Regions from separate parts of the Homo sapiens genome. Here regions 1 and 2 are each linked to region 3. The links come from fine-mapping of genetic effects on gene expression. A gene starts in region 3. Each other region holds a variant in brackets. All regions are shown on one strand. Distances are from middle to middle.

Region 1 (5,709 bases), 71 kb before region 3:
GTCAGAGTTTTGCTAACAGATATAGTTCATGGAAAGAATTTTGCTTTACTAGTATTTACTCTAATACGTCTACCTAAATATCCACCATGTCCTCTTTGTCTCTCTCCCGTATATTTCAGCACTGCCTAAAGTCTGTATTTATTGTTCCCATGGTTTTTCATTTTTATTTTTTTTTCTGAGATGGAGTCTCACTCTGTCTCCCAGGCTGGAGTGCAGTGGCGTGATCTCGGCTCACTGCAACCTCCACCTCCCAGGTTCAAGCAATTCTCCTGCCTCAGCCTCCTGAGTAGCTGGGATTACAGGCATGCACCATTAGATTTTGAAAATGAAACTTACTCATAAATATATTTCTTTCAAAATGAATTTTATAACTCTTTTCCCTTCAAATTTAAAACTTAAACCTCTACTAAGTTCCCATGGGTTCTTTTCATGGAAACTTAGTAGAGGTTTAAGTTTTAAATTTGGAAGGAAAAGATTTACAAAATTCATTTTGAAAGAAATATATTTATGAGTAAGTTTCATTTTCAAAATCTAATGTGTGATCACTTCATTTAGATTAAACTGTTGCCTGGTGCACTTGCAACCCACACATGGCAGAATTAGTTGGTGTGGGAGAAGGAAAGGGAAACTCTGACTGCATAGGGTCAAAAGCTGTTTGATGACAGGTCCGTTTGTGCATAAGGACAATACTTTTAGAAACCCATAACCTTAGCAACCTCAAATGCCAAAAGCAGAGTGTGAAATAACCAAACTAGAAAAAAAAATGGAGGCCTTATTGATCTTCATCGCACTAATACACCCTTACCATTTTAAAGAAAAGTATACTTTTTAGAAGAAAAAAGAAACCTATGTTTTTAAATTTTTTTAATTACTCCCTTGAACATGTGTGTGTGGTTTCTTTAGGAGAGTCTGGGTAGTTGACATTGTTTTGTCTACTAAGGATATGAGTCTATTGTATCATGTAATTTCCTGTTTATTAGGACCCTTGGGGGAAAATTTCTGTCTGCTCATGGGAGCCCAAATATTTGTAACTGAGCAACAGGTTTATTTTAATCTCATGAATATTGTAGGTGATTTAATTGTCAATGGGCTGCTTATTTTTGTTTTCTTGGTTGCTTTTTAAAAAAGTTATTTAAAAAGGTACACAAGTCACATGACATTAGTTCCTATTAAAAAAGATTGAGTTAATTCAGTCAGATTTTTATGTAACATCCAAGAGTGACTCTGTCCCATAATACACCCTCTGCTTCACTTGATGTTTTCTAGCGTTGACTCAGGATATGCAGTAGTAACTAACATCACATGAATTTTCAAAATTGCATTTATTTTTAGCACCAACTTTAAGGATTTTTATTATGACAATAGAGGTTAATGAGCATTTTCACAAGATAAACAAAAAATCCCCCCAAATATGTAAGTGTTTTAACATAATGATTGCAGTTTATTTTTCACTCAGGTCAAATCCAAGATGGGTGTTCCTGATCTGCCTGTAGCTCTCCTCCAACCCAGACTCCTTTCAAACTGTGCCTCCACCATCTTCAATATGGAGCTTCCAAGATTGCCCTGCTGCCCTGCATCAAGCCTGCAAAAGAGGATAGGGGGTCAGGCCACTCATATTTCATTGGCCCAAATTCAGTCACATGGCCACACTCACTGCAAGGGAAGCTGGGAAATGGAGTCTAGCTCTGTGCCCAAGAAGCAAAGAAAAACAGATTTGATGAAGACTTAGTCAATCTCTGCAACAATGAAACAGATAAGAAGGCAAAAGAAAAAGAATTTTACAACCTGAGGAGGGAGAGAAAATTCAGTTAACAAAAAGATAGACTACATGCCAAGGTAGTCTGCAGAATTCTACCTACCCAAATTATGTGTTAAATTGTGAAAGAAGTTATGATAAAAATAGGATGAGGGTGAAATTTGAAAAATGCTCTGGGGACACATAGCACACTCCTTCCCTGGTGACACAGTAGGCAGAACCAAGCCAACTATAAAAGGAAGCTCAGTGTGTTTAATCTGTTGCTCGGATAAAACCATCCTGGAAAAACTCCCAGTTTTACAATCTAACTGATCATCAGTATCTCAGTTATACAAATAACTCCAGCCTGCATGAAATACCTTCTTGCTCCCCTTGACTTGTAAAAATAACTTTGTTTCAATGGAAAAGGTGTAGAAAATGGACGTTGAAGCCAATCAAACTCATAGTATCAATACTTTGTGTTAAGCTTTAGGAGTAAGTTTTGTAATCATTGCAATCAGCTTGTTTTTGTTATTTAAGCAGCTTAAAATGATTAAGATAATCTGACATATTAGCCTTACGATTTTATTTTGGAATGATAAACTAATACTCAATTTGTAATTTTCACTTGAAAGTTGCAGAATAATTGAATATGTTCTTTAAAAGTGTTTGAATATTCAGAAGAATCTAATTTACTACATGTATAAACTAGTATTATTACAAGAGTTCATTGAGATATTGAAGGATTTTTCTTGCTTTGTTTGTAAATGTTGCCCCATCAGGCATTTGAAGTGTTTGAGAAAGTCAAAGTTATTAAATTTGTAAAGATAGTTAAAAATATTTTAGGAAATCTTTTTACATGTATAAAGATGGTCAGTTTGAAGAAATTTAATGTTTTTAAGTTTGTAAGTTGATTGAACACTAATCAAACAAGAAAAGCAATTGTTCTCATTTTTATATAAAAATCACTATATTTACAAATAAAATAACCAGGTTTATAGACTAAGCTTGAAGGCCTAAAACACATTTTAAGTGTAAGGGCCAGGGGTAGGGGGGCAACAAAGAGCAAGAAGCCAAGAGGAGCTAAGAAACCGGAACCTGAGCTGCAGTCCCCAGAGGAAGGGACTTGCTTGGAAGTCTACTTCCTCCCAG[A/G]GGTAAGCTGTCGAGTCATATGGGAAAGAGGTAGTGAGACTAATGGGCAGAATCAGGGTCATTCCTGGATTTCTGTCTAAAACAGGGCAAAGAGGAGCAGGGGTAGGGCCCAGCAACAGGATATGGGTCTGACAGAGATTCAAGATGGGTAGCAGGGCCCTGTGTGGACAGAGGGTGCACATAAGAAGACGTAAGAGGACAATGGAGAGGCTACACCATAATGGAGATGTCTGGCCACTTGGTGCTGAGATAGAGAGCAGAACAGACACTAAATAAGGCCAGTGTCCCCACCACCAAGGGACAAAGGGACAGGAGAAGGAACAGAGAGGCCCTTGGGGAAGTGGATGCTCTTGAAGAACAGGTGGAATAGACACCTGGCGTCTTGGTGCCTATCATGTGATAATCATCTTAACTGTGAACCCGGTGAAGGACAGGAGCAGCTTATATCAAGTTCTGAGGTGTGGGGGTGGGGATACAGTGCTCCAGTATGGGGTGTGGAAAAGTGGGGCTACATTGACAGCATCACAGGACTCTACCATCTAGATGACAGTAATGCCCCTCCCCAACTCATGAAAATCAAAACTATCTCCAGAAATTGCCACATTTCCCCCCAGCCCCCAGGGGTGACAAAATCGTCTGTGGATAAGACCCACTGCTCTAGAATGTAAATGCCATGAAAGCTGGAACATTTTCTAACGTATCTTCAGCAACCCATAAGTGACACTGAATAAGTATTTGTTGAATAAATGAATGAATGAGTGGGTTATGAATCATAACAGCAATGGAAGAGCAGTGAGAACATGACAATCAAATCCCAAAGCCTTCCTGGATTAAAATAAGTGAGAATCAATTGGAATAAGACAGAATCAAGATAGCTTTATCCTTAATAAAGTTAAGAAAGAAATAATGGTTTGTTTATACTTAAAATTTTAAATTTTTCTGGTTGGGACATTGATTTATTTCCTCATGCTAGTAGTGAGTATATACTTATCATTATAAATATAATTTCATACATTTAAACACAGGCATGTTTCTTCTCTGGGGTTCTTAGCATTCCAGTTGGAAATCCATCTCTATGTTAAGCACAAAGCTCCATATGTCACTTAAGTGAATGGACCACCAATCAACTAGTGATAGCAACAAGAGGCAAAGGGCACAGAGTGAAGGAGGAAGAGTACAAAATGCCTTCCCATTTTCCCCAAAATCCCAGAATGCAATCGCCATATCTCAGAGGAACATCTGGTTGAATTGGGAGGGTGGGTAAGATTTTGGAGGATCTGGGAGGCCAGGCCAAGGAGTTGTTTTAAGGTAGTGAGCATTTGAGAACCATGAGAACATGTGGAGCACAGTCAGATGTTGTCAATCGTGCCTTAAGAAGATTCTGCAGGCAGTGGCGGTCAGGGAAGAAAGTAGAGGAGAGAGATGCACCAGGCTGCCTATGATGAGATGTGCACCAAGGAAGCTGGCTGCTTGACTTCAGAGCCAAGGAAATGGAGTGTGGACATTACTGCAAAGCTGGACTTCTGTTAAGGACAGAGCTTTCACAATGCTTACACATTGTTGGTTTACAATTCCCTGAATTTAGCAATGCTTGATGATAATGGAATTTACTTTCCTATTGAAACAACTCAGAGAGGATTACTAAGGCAGGGTCATGAAGACCTGGACAAACTGACCCTCTCACCGCCTTGGATAGCCTTGGCCACTTGAGTCAAATCCAGTGTTATCTGGGAGTGAGGGATTATTTTGTCTCAAGGGTAATCAGCTTTAAGGCAAGATTCTAGGAAACAACCTTCACTTAAAATTTTCTTTTCATTAAGATCCAAAGAATAATTTTCAGTGATTATGAAATTATAGTCTCTTATCTTTGTTTCTTTGATTTTTATAACATTATGGCAGAAAATGCCAGCAAATCCCTTATATCCATTCTTCCTTTCTCCCTCATAGCAGAATCCCTGGTTTATCAGCTGGGAATGTGGAAATCCAGACAGCAAATCTCATTTTCCAGATTCCCTTGCTAGCTAGGTGTGGCCCTATTGCTAACTACTTCTTCTTTTTTTTTTTTTTTTTTTGAGACAGAGTCTCACTCTGCCACCCAGGCTGAAGTACAGTGGCACAATCTTGGCTCACTGCAACCTCCAGCTCCTGGGTTCAAGCAATTCTCATGTCTCAGCCTCCCAAGTAGCTGGAATTATAGGCGTGCACCACCATGCCCAGCTAATTTTTATATTTTTAGTAGAGACAGCGTTTCACCATATTGGCTAAGCTGCTCTCAAACTCCTGACCTCAAGTGATCCGCCTGCCTTGGCCTCCCAAACTGCTGGGATTACAGGCATGAGCCACCGCACCTGACCTGTTGCTACCTTCTGACTAATGACATGGGGGCAGAAGTATCACATGGAAGTTTCTGGGAACCTTCCTTTAAAGACACCCTGTGTCTGCTCTTTGCTCTCTTCCATCTTGCTGATATGGCCTCCCGGGACATGGGAAGCAGGCTCTCCTAAGGATGGCGGTGGGGTAGTGGGGTGGGGGACCTGGCAAATCTGCCATGCCAGTCCTTCACATGAGACAGAAATAATGCCATATTTTGTGTAGGCTTCTCTTTGGGATGTTTTCCATTACTTGCAGACAAACTCATCCTCAGTAATACAAAAAATAAAATTATATTCTATAGTATGATCTCTCACCTACCCTATTAAAAATGTTTTGTAACTTCTCCTTACTCATTCTTTCTTCCTCACAATTTGTCCCACATGTAGTTGATAAATGATCTCTGAAAGTCCCAGCTGAATCATGTCACCCACACCCTGCCACCCATGTTT
Region 2 (5,709 bases), 190 kb before region 3:
GCAGATCATTTAGGGCCTTGCAGACCATTGCCAGGGCACTGGCTTTAATTTTGGGAAAAATGAAGAATTGCTATGTGATTTTGAATGTAGTAGCAGTGAAGATGCCGAAAGATCAATGGATTGTGGATGTATTTTGAAGGTAGAGCTAGTGGAGCCTGAGAAAGGGTAGTCAAGGATGACTCCTAGTTTTTTTATTTGAGCAAATTGCAAGATGCCAGCCCAGGAAAGGCTGCAGCAGGGACAGGTTTAAGGGAGAAGATCAGGAGTTCGGTTTGGGGCACGTTGGGTTGGAGATGTCTATTCAACAACCAAAGAGAAATGCCAAGTAGGCCTTTGGAATTATGAGTCAAAATTTGGGAGAAGGGTCTGGGCTAGAGATAGAATTTCTCAATCATATTGGAAATTCTCAGCATATAGACGGAATTTACAGCCCTGGGACTTGGTGAAATCATCCGAGGAGGGAGCACAGAAAGGGGAATCCTGAGGCAGCCGACATGAAGGGGTTGGAGAGGTAAGGAGAAGCAGCACAGAAGACAGAGGAGGAGTAATCAGAGGTAGGCAGAAAACCAAGAGACTACTGTGTCCTGGAAGCCAAAGGAAGAAAAAGGAGTTAACTGTGTGGAATGCTCCTGACAGGTCAAATGAAATGTGACTGGGAAATGGGAACTAACCATTGGATTTAGCAACACGGAGGTCACTGCCGCCTTGATGAGAATGGTTTCCATGGCATGATGGGAATAGAAGCCTGGCTGGGGTGGGCTTCAGAAAGAACATATGGGGTAGAAGTGGAGACAGTGAGTATCAGCAGCTCTTTCAGGAGTCTTGCAAAAGGGGAGCTGGCAGGGTAAACGGATCAAAGAAAGCTTTTCAGAAAATCAACTTTATTAAGGCATAATTTACATATAATAAATTTGAAGTATACAGTTTAATGATTTTTGACAAATGTATGCATCCATGTAACCACCACAACAATCAAGATATATATTACCAGCATCACCCCAAAAGGTTCCTTGTGCTCCTTTTGTCAATCTCTCCCATCATCCCCTCCCCAATCCGCAGCTCCAGGCAACCACAGACCTGCTTTCTGTCTCTGAGATTAGTTTTGCCTTTTCTAAAATGTCGTATAAATTGAATCATATAGGATGTGCTCCTGTGTCTGGCTTTTTTTGCTCAGCATATACTTGAGAAATATCCATGTTGCTGTATCTATGAGTAGTTTCTTACTTTATATTGAGTTATATTTCATTGTATATATATACCGCAATTTGATTACCCATTACTTGTTGATGGACATTTGAGTTGTTTCTAGTTTTGGGCCATTATGATGAAAAATGGTATGAATATTTGTATACAAGTCTTTGTACGGACATCATTTCCTTCCTACTGGGTAGATATCAAGGAGTAGAATCGTTGGGTCATTTAGTGATGTATCTTTCATTTTATAAGAACTACCGAACTGTTTTCCAAAATAACTACATAATTTCACATTCTCACCAGCAATGTATGAGCTCCAAATTCTCCACAGATTTATCAACACCTGATATTGTCCGTCTTTAAATTTTAGAGGAAGTTTTTGTTATTTTTTTAATAGACTTATCTTTGGAAGAGCTTTAGATTCATAGAAAAGTTGAAAAGACAGTACAGGGTAGAGATTTCCAGAATACCCTTCGCCTAGCTTTCCCTCACGTATATTTGTCAAAACTAAGAAATTCACATTGGTATAAAACTAATAGCCCAACTATCAACTCTAATCAGAGTTTTTTGAATTTTCTCACTAATGTCTTTTTTCTGTTCCAAGATATCACTCTGCATTTTGTCATCATGTCTCAGTCATCCCAATCTGTGATCACTTCTTAGTCTTCCCTTGTTTATCATGACCTTAAGGGCTTTGAAGAATACTGGTCATGTATTCTGTAGAATGTTCCTCAGTTTGGGTTTATCTCATGTTTTCTTATAACTCAATAGATTTGAAGAATACCACAGTCGGGAATTGCCCTTCTCATGAGATCGTATCAGCGGGTGAATGATAGCAACATGACTTATCAGCGGTGATGTTAACCTTCATCATTTGGTTAACAAGGTACCTGCTGGGTTTCTTTCCTATAAAGTTACTATTTTCCCTTTCCATACTCTACTCTTTGGAAGTGAGTCACTAAATCCAGTCCACTCTCAAAGAGAGTGGATTTAAGCTCGGCTTCCTGGAGGGGAGAGTATCTACATATGCTATTTGGAATTCTTCTATAGAGAAGATTTTTCCCTTCTCGTTTATTAATTTGTTGAATCACTTATAATGAAGGCATTTTTTTAAAGATGGAAAAAATAACAGGTATTTATTTGTATGTTGATGGAAATGATCCAATAGAGAGCAAAATATTGTGAGTTTCTTTAGTTTCTATAGCAAGTATTGAAAATTTTTTTCACTGTTAGCTTTCCACCAGGCCTTTCCTCATGTCTTTTACAAATTCACTTCTTGGCCAGGCATGGTGATTCACACCTGTAATCTCAGCACAGGAGGCCAAGGTAGGAGGATCACTTAAGGTCAGGAGATCAAGCCCAGCCTTGGCAACATAGCAAAACTGTCTCCCCAAAAATTTATAAAAATAAAACAAAATAAAATAAATAAAATGTTTCATTTACCCACAATTCCGTTTCCTTAGGCCCTGTGGGAGGTCAGCTGTTGATGTCAGGGCCGACACTTCACAGCTGGCCGGTGGAACCAGGTGTCAGTTCTGGTGATCTGGCAGAAGTCCTTGGTACCTGGTGGCAGGGGACCCCTCCCTCCCCAACACACTCACTCTTCACACCTCCTCATCTCCTCAGCCACTCACAGGAGTTCAGTGCAGGGCTGGGGAAGGGCCTGCGTTTTCCTCTGGGTAGGAAAGAGCCAGGTATCCATCATGGGGAGCTGGGGCAGCTATAGGCCTCTGGAGGAGACTGGAGGGACTAAGGGGTCCTTGGGGGATAATTCAACAGGAAGGAAGCAGCAGATAGAATTTCTTGGCTCCAACTCAGAATCCAGAAAAGTGGGCCCTGTGTTTCTTCTGTCCCTTTGTTGGGAGGATGGAACTCTGAGGACAATGATCACAGCCACGAGCCCAGCTAGAGACTCAGGGGAGACATGTCTGAGCACCCCAGGATGCGGGAATGAGATATTCATAACCTTAGAGATCCAGGTTAGAAATTCAATGGTGGAAGCGACAGCCTGGGGAGAGGCCTAGGACAGATCCTGGATGGAACTTGGACCACTGCCAGTGGCCTACCACCTCATTCCCACCCCATCCTCCCCATCCCCACCACACAGAGACCTCTAATCTGGCCTCCAGCTGGGGAGCTCCCCACCCACACACCTGGCCCCTGCAGGGTGTGGGAGTGGTGGAGAGAGAGTGGTGGTGACAAAGTTGACATCTCCTAGGCAGCAGAAATGGTCTCCAGGCATGCATTTTGCAGAGGCTAGCAGAATGGCATCTATGTAGAT[A/C]TGTATATTTGTATATGAATCAATCCACACCCTGCGGTGACACCAGAAAAAACTGTCACCATTGAAAGGAAGGTGGTAAATTCCCTCTCATTCAGAGAATACCTTTCTCTTCTCAACCAGCTGCCCACGGGTTTCTCATCAAGATAGTAATTCATTGTACAGGGAAGGGAACTCACCATGTGGAAATTCCCACTTCCTCGGAGAACAGTGTGCACAGTGTTAACCTTGGTGAGTAAGAATTCCCCCTCCTCTCACACCCCCATTGGCAGCTTTCCTCTCGGAAGCCTGTGGTCACCTTCAGTCTTATCCACATCTGAAAAGTGACGTAGGGGCAAATCTGCCAAGCACCAACAACCCGAGCGATTGGAGCAGATATTGTCATCTTTTTGGTCTGCCCAGCAACCCCTCTGACAATAGCACTTCAGTTTCCTTTGGTGGAAAGCGGCTCTTCCTCCCTCTTTTCATGTGATTCTGGTAGGGGAGGGAGTACGTGACCCAAGCCTGGCCATCACAGAGACACATCTCTCTGGCCACAGGGAAGGACATATAGCCCAAGCTGGGCCAGTCAGTCACCTTTGGCCAACAATGCTAGACTGTAAGGCAGGGCAGAGCCTGTCTGAGGATGGAAAACTAAGAGATGGACAGAGGCCTGAAAGCAACCTCAGAGCTCCTGGGTCCAGCTGGTCTTTTTAGTTATAAGCAACTTATAAGCAACTTTCTTTCTTTCCTTCCTTCTTTCCTCCCTTCCTCCCTCCCTCCCTCCCTCCCTCCCTCCCTTCCTTCCTTCCTTCCTTCCTTCCTTCCTTCCTTCCTTCCTTCCTTCCTTTTCTATTAAATGAAATTTATAGGAGGTCACTGATTTGGGCTGAGCTCCTGCAGGAGGCCCCAGTAGACCAAACCAAGATGGAGTCACTCATGCTAAGTTCCATATCACCAAACTGAAACTAAGTCATCAGACCTTCCCAGAACTCAAGACAGAGAGAGATAATATGCAAATCCCCAAACAGGCCAGTTGTAGCCAGCATGATAAGGAAGTCCCCTCTACTTTAACCTTTATAAGGAAAGTAACCTGAAGTAACCTGAGCTTACCAATCTGCTTTTTGTTCCCTGTGTCTGCTTTCTTCACCCTTTTCTGCCTATAAAGCCAAGCTTCTCTGTTTAGCTCATCAGAGCACTTTTCCTAAAGTTTTAGAGGAGATGCTGCCCCAATTCATGAATTACAAATAAAAACCAATTCAATCATTTAACTAAATGTGTTGTAATTTTGCCTTTCGACATTTCTCCCTTTTTCTTTCTGTTCTCTCTCTTTCTTCCTCCCTGTCTCCGCTTCTCCCTTTCCTACCTATTTTGGCTCAGGCCAGTTTGAATTTGGCTTTTGTCTCTCACACTAAAATTTTTCCAAAAAATACCCTAATGGCATTGTCGCCTCACACGCCTGCTTGTCCCGCAACATTGGTTGAGAAAGGCTTAAGGTCTCTGTTTTTGAGTTGTCACAAGGGGACTGAACCATTCCAACCTACAACCTCTTTTGTCCCGTAAAGTGTAAAATAAGAATATCTTTTTAAGATTGAATACATGTATTTTTCTATTATACAAGTCATACAAATATTTAATTTTAAATGAGAGAAAGGGGAAAAATCAGTCATAGTCCAGCAACTGTGATTTTAGCTTATTTTATTAATAGCTTATTTCCTTACAAATATTTCCCCACACGTTTATTTAGTCGCAGGCTTCATGCATACAAAATGCACACTGCTATGATCATCGTAACCATCAGCAAGCAGGCATTGTCATCAGCGCTTCTTTATTTCTGTGGTTTCTCAGTCTCTTTTATTTTCTTTCTTTAAAAAAGAAAAAAAACTTTTTTTTTTCCTGGTCAACAGGGCCTGGGCAACATGGCAAGACTGTCTCTTTAAAAAAGGAAGAAAAAAATTAGCCAGGTGTGGTGGTGCATGCCTGTGCTTCCAGCTACTTGAGAGGTTGAGATAGGAGGATCGCTTCAGCATGGGAGGTCAAAGCCACAGTGAGCCGTGTAAAATAAAAACTAAAAAAGAGGAAAGAATAAACTTAGTTTTTTGAAGAGACACTATGTTGCTCAGGCTGGCCTCAAATTCCTGGCCTCAAGCGATCCTCCTACCTCAGCCTCCCAAAGCACTAAGATTACAGGGATGAGCCACACTCAGCCCAAAGTCTCAATTTTCCATGACTTTTCTTCATGGAGGTAGAGTTGTGAG
Region 3 (5,709 bases):
GGAGATATAGAACAGAGAGCACAGGGATATTTCCGGGGTATAATAAACAGGACTTGGTGGTTAGTTATGAATTGGAAGGGACAAAAAGAATGGGGCCTGGGAACAATCCTAGGTTTCTGGCTTGTGTCTGGGTGAATGAAAGAAGCATGCTTTGAGGAAAGAACAAACTACATCTTGGACAGCCTGAATCTGAGGTGCCTCTAGGAATTCAAGTTGGGGATGTTCAATAGGTATTTGTTTTTTAATAGATTTATTTGGCCTAGTGAAGAATAGAAAGTCCTTCTAATTTTTAGGAAGACAAGAAAGCCAGAAGCAGCATCTCTGGAAAATATTACCGTTGTACAGAGTGTAAGACCATTTTCATTCCGCACAGCTTCTTTATTCAAAATCCCCTTTCAAGCCAGTGCCCCATCTGTGCTGAAATGTTGTTTAACATGTTGATCTATTTTCTTTTCTTTTTTTTTTTTTTTTTTTTTTGAGACGGAGTCTCGCTCTGTCGCCCAGGCTGGAGTGCAGTGGCGAGATCTCTGCTCACTACAAGCTCCGCCGCCCGGGTTCACGCCATCCTCCTGCCTCAGCCTCCCGAGTAGCTGGGACTACAGGCGCCCGCCACCACGCCCAGCTAATTTTTTGTATTTTTAGTAGAGACGGGGTTTCACTATGTTAGCCAGGATGGTCTCGATCTCCTGACCTCGTGATCCGCCCGCCTCGGCCTCCCAAAGTGCTAGGATTACAGGCGTGAGCCACCAATTCCGGCCAACATATTGATATATTTTCAAGAAGGATATTATATATGGGTACTTAACTTACTATTCTTGTGCTATCTGTAGGCTTAAAGCATCCCATATGTAAAGTCGCTGGCAGCCTTCAAGTAGCATTTAAAGGTATAACAGCTTTAAAACTTCCCATAAATGAAAATAAACATACCCATAATTACTTCCTTTAAGATTCGAGGCCAAAGACACTTAAACCTAAACTGCCTAGCTTGTTCAATTTTCTAATTGGTAAACATTTACTGGGTTACCAAAGATACCAAGTACATTCGGAAAGACCATGGCTCCTTGGTTTGTTTCTAATTTAAATTACACAGACACACTAAACAAGGACTGGGAGAGTGATATATTTAGTTAAGTAACAGATGGCAAATGGACATTCTGTCCAGCCTCTATCACATTCGTTTCTCAGTATTCTATGTTAGAGTGATCTAAATCTTGAAGAGAATAAACCAGGAGGAAATGCACCAGGCCCAGACGGAATTTGTTTATTCAACTAAGAATACCAAGACTAGTGTAGATTGAAACATTCAAAGGGGATATGACTGGCTGAAAAGATATGAGACGAAGGAACAAATAAAGCTGGATTAAAGTAATTAGGAATGTATTAGAGATGAAATAGGAATTCTGATTACTTGACTGCAAAATAGTAAAAAAAAAATGAAATAAAAGAGATGAATGGAAGATACTCTCCAAACCCTCACGTAGGCTTGCTATTGTGGCTAAGTACTGTTCCTAACAGCCTCTGCAAAGACAGGTGCACTAAGAGGGCGGCTGCAGACGCACAGGGTGCTGCCGTCCTCTGGGAAAGGACATTTCCTCGCCGAGAGCTGCAACATCCCGGCACTTCTCTCCCTCGGCCTGCCAATCTAGCAGGTGAACCCTGAGAACACAAAGGAATGAATAATGCCGGGCAAACTGCCAAGAGCCAGAGTCGCCGAGTCTGGCAACTCCCTTCAACCGGGCGCAGCTCCAGCCACCCCGACCTGTCCTTGGAGGAGACGCTCTCTGGGCCACGGAGAACCGGCCAGGGAGACACCGGCCCCACTGCCCGGCGCGCTCGAGGCGAAGTCCCCTCCGCCAGGGACAGGCGTGGGGGCCGCAGTCGGGGCCACCCGGGTGCAGCGGGGCGGCTCCTGCGCGGGCGCGGAACGAACGTGCGCAAGGGAACAGCCGCGTCCAGAGCCGCCCGCAGCGGGCCCGGTGGGCGTGACGCCATGACGCACAGCACGCGGGCGGCGCGCTGGGGCGGGGCGGCCGGGGGCGGGAGGAAGAAGTGGGAGGAGGAGGAGGGGAAAGCGGGGGCTGCGGGAGGGGGAGGTGGTAGTTGCGGCGCTGGTTCCCGGGAGCAGCCGTCGAGCCACAACTGCGGAGGAGGAGTTCGGGAAAGCGGCCGTCGGGACTCCTCCCCTCCGTCGTCTCCGCCCCGGTTGAGAGGCGCCTCGGCGCATCGGAGGGACCCTCCCCCGCGCTTCCTCAGGCTGCTGTCGCCGCTGCTGGGAGATGGGCCTACTCGCCCGCCACCCTGCGCTGCCGCCGCTCTGAGGAGTTAAAGGTACGGGCGGGCACCCGGAGGAGCTTGCGCCCCGGAGCGGGAGAGAAGGGGCGGCTCTCGCTTACGACCCAGGGAGCTCTGGCCGGGCCGCAGCCCTAGCGCCCCTGCCCGGGACAGAAATGGATTCGGAAGTCCGGTGGGAAAGGCGTCTCCTCCAGTGTCCAGCGTGGGCTCGGGGCCGTGGCCGGCTTAGGGGGTCAGGCCTCGGTCAGCTCCGGGTCCCCTACCCGGCCCAGGCGCGGGCGTCTCCCGGGCCGCGGGGGCCGAGGTGGAGCGTGGGATCCGCCCCAAGCCCTGTCCTCCTGGTGCCTGTGCGGCCGGCGGCCGGCCCGGCGATATTATGACGGGCCGAGGCGGCGCTCCCCTCGAGCTGTCTCCTGCCCCTAAAGCGGGGGAGACCCAAGGGCGGTTGCCGCGGGGAGGCGGCGGGGGCGGAACGCATTCCTGACGGGTGAAATCGGCTCTAACGGGACCGATTTCCGGGCCTCGCTGCAAATTTGGAGCCGGGACATCGCCCCGCAAGCCGTGCTGCCTGGGGCCTTAGGGAGGGGAGCTGTGTTCGGAGGAAGGTTAGTCCGGGACTGCTACCACCTCCTTCAAAAGCAAAAATTACACATCACACCAAAATGGTGTAGCCTTGGGGTGAAGTATGTGTTAACGGGGGTCTTCCGGGATTGTCTCCCCGTGCTAAGCCTTTAGGGTGTTCCCAGCCCTCGCCCGGCAAGTAATACTACTACTTTGAATTTTCAGTTTTTCTTATCTGGGTTCCACTCTGCAGTTGCTCTTTTTTTCCCATTTCCATTAATGGGAAGAAGAAAAAGAAGTTTAGGGTTCATTAACCCCGCGACAAGGGCAGTAAATAAAAAGAGGGAAGAGAGTGGTTAAGGCTATATATGGGAGAGAGAAACGTTTAATTTTTTCCCATTGACCCTTGGAGATATAAATACACGAACGATGCTTTACTCTGCTTAATGTTTACTGTCCACAGTGTTGCAGAATGTTCTGTTGGGGTGACGTTAGAAAAGACGGCGTTTAAGTGCCGTTGCAATTTTCAAACCTAGATGTTGGCTAGAAATGCTAATTTTAAGTGTTAGTAAACAGTAGAGGCTTAAAGCAGCCCTTTCCTTTGATCGGTTGTCTTAAATTGTGATCTTTACATTCCACATTTTTTTTTTTTAAAGAACATGGTTCTTTTCATTTTTTTAAAATATCTTTTCTTATTTTAACCTAGATTCATTGAGTTTTGGTTGTTTGAAGTCTGACGGTTTGCCTTAAGTTTTATTTTCAGTTTTGCCATTACCCGTCTTAATACACATTTTACCACTTCTGTTTATAATGCAAGCCATTACCCTGTTTGCCTGTTTTTGCTTCTTTAACACTGACTGAACTATCTGAATTGAGTTAAAATGTAAATACTTCTCTATTTAGAAAATGGCGATGATCGTATTTTCAAATGTTCTTTCCTTGTTACAGTTTCATGGTAAAAATTTAGAATTAAGTCTTGGGACTTAATAAACCAAATTATGCTAAAAAAACACTTTTAAAATTTGTTAGTTTAATGCCCTGCTTAATGTTCTCTTTTTTTAAATTACTGTATAAAATTTAACTGAAGTTTAAATTTTACGTGTCCATGGAAAATATTTTAATGTCATCGCAAGGTGTCTTTGAGGAAAAAATTACAGTTGGCAACTAATGTTAGTGTATTTTTTTCACTATCTTAGCTTCCAGGAGATTCCAGTAAGATTAATTTTTAAAACTGCAGCATCATTTTAGGAGTTGAAGCACAACCCAATTCTTAGTACCAAATAGTGGCCACTGGAAATTTTGTTTTCTCATTTAGGGGATGCCTCAGTTGATCAGTAGACTTAATATAAAGAACTGTCCATACTGTCAACCAGACAGTGTTGGGATTTTTAAACAAATTTTGGTGATTTCTTGAGTTTTTGATGTATTTTGCTTGACTGAAACTTATTTTCTGCCTAACACACGAGAGGTGCTAAGATTCCTATTTTTAAAGATACTTCATTCAAGAAAATGGATGAATAAATAAAATACTTAGCATCTTGGTGGAAAGTAAATGCACTTCCCAAATTTGAATGTAAGTGAAGTCGTAAAGCAGTATGTTTGCAGTTGAGGATGTAAGACACTTGGGTCACCTCTATTTTATTGGGGTTGGATTGAAGGATACTATTTGTTATGGGGTTGTTTAGAATTAAATATGGGTAATTAAAAGCAAACTTTTTGTTTTAACTATTTGAAATAATCACTTGTATATTATGGAAGATTCTGACACCCCCTCCCCACCACGGTTTTTTTTTTGTTGCGGCAGTTTGTATCTTGAACACTTATTTAGATTTATATAGAAATTTTTTGGTTTCAGATTATTTCTCCCCCTTCTCCAACACATATAGTTTGTTGTTGTTGTCGTTTTTAATCTACAGGGCACAGATGGTTGAGATATGTAGTTTTCTGTAATTTCCAAGTAGGGAAAAGAAGGCAAAATATTTGTGATAACATGTAAAAGTCCCTAGTCAAGTGCTGGGCGCAGAGTAAGCTGGAGATAAATTTTGTTATATTAATATTTACATCTGAATTGCTCACTTATATCTTCTCTACTCGGGTTATATAGGAAATCTTAGGGAATTGTTATTCGTTTTTCTAATGTCATTAATAAGTGAAAACTGACTGTCAAATGCAGGCTGGTTTTGTACTGAACTAATAAGCTTATGATCTTTTAACATTCTTTGCCAAGATAAAAATTAGGCCACCTTGGGCAAAAGCCCAAAGTAAAGTTGAATTTCTAAATTTACATTTCATTGCATATTGCATTGTATTTGGCAAACTAGCACATCATAGCAAAATGGTAGTTGAATTTAGATTGTCTGAAAGGACCCATGATTATATATGGAGTAGTACTTCAGCTTAAAAGCTATTTATCAAAATATTCATCTTACTACTTACGGAGAATAGCTAAATTTTTCTTTACTTAGGAATTTTTTTTCTCCAACTAGGAGTAATTATGAATTTTCTTTTTTTAAGCCATGCCAGTTCTCTGTTAGTAGATAGAAGATGTCTAACATTGAAACAACTCATTTACTTAACCGTACCTGCACAGCTAAAGACTAAGGGATAATATTTCCTTGCTGAACATACCTGTATTTCAGATGGTGGTAGGCTTCAACCAAACAGGCAGTGAAATCACTTTGGGTGTTTAAAACTTGTGTACTTCATTTGTTTCTCAAAAGTTATCATATGTCAGTGATACTTTCTATATCAAAGTGGAAAAAGTAACACTTCTTGATAAAGGAGGTTTTGCTTGCATTGCTCTCTTTATCACTGTCATTAACACCTGAAGAATTATTTTTATTGATAACTTTTTTA

Which allele goes with the higher level. Positions count from the first base shown, and alleles are read on the strand shown. Sizes are in standard deviations (SD) of each study's normalised expression.
In carriers of allele G in region 1, the expression in monocytes after LPS of the gene that starts at base 2,242 in region 3 tends to be higher than with A alone (moderate effect, 0.54 SD a copy in Fairfax 2014).
For the expression in neural progenitor cells of the gene that starts at base 2,242 in region 3, A is the low allele of the variant in region 2 and C is the other (large effect, 1.0 SD a copy in Aygun 2021).

The links.
Region 1: its variant is fine-mapped to the expression of RNF19A in monocytes after LPS (Fairfax 2014, PIP 0.95). The same link has a PIP of 0.9 or more in monocytes after Pam3CSK4.
Region 2: its variant is fine-mapped to the expression of RNF19A in neural progenitor cells (Aygun 2021, PIP 0.95).

The regions. Positions count from the first base shown.
Region 1 is chr8:100,377,519-100,383,227 of GRCh38, reverse strand. MIR4471 (microRNA 4471) reads right to left here and starts at 465; the gene lies at 383-465. LOC124901991 (a long non-coding RNA gene) reads right to left here. Exons shown (of 2, transcript XR_007061030.1): 2 at 1,304-1,582. RefSeq lists an enhancer at 555-654. The variant A/G (reference allele first, on the strand shown) is at 2,888.
Region 2 is chr8:100,500,572-100,506,280 of GRCh38, reverse strand. LOC124901992 (a long non-coding RNA gene) reads right to left here. Exons shown (of 2, transcript XR_007061032.1): 2 at 5,133-5,519. Among named protein-coding and RNA genes, the nearest start is that of ANKRD46, 56 kb to the left of the region's middle. RefSeq lists an enhancer at 3,613-3,772 and a silencer at 4,412-4,481. The variant A/C (reference allele first, on the strand shown) is at 3,476.
Region 3 is chr8:100,306,486-100,312,194 of GRCh38, reverse strand. RNF19A (ring finger protein 19A, RBR E3 ubiquitin protein ligase) reads left to right here and starts at 2,242. Exons shown (of 10, transcript NM_183419.4): 1 at 2,242-2,328. RefSeq lists silencers at 1,885-2,044, 1,750-2,139, 2,500-2,589, 2,640-2,689, 2,960-3,009.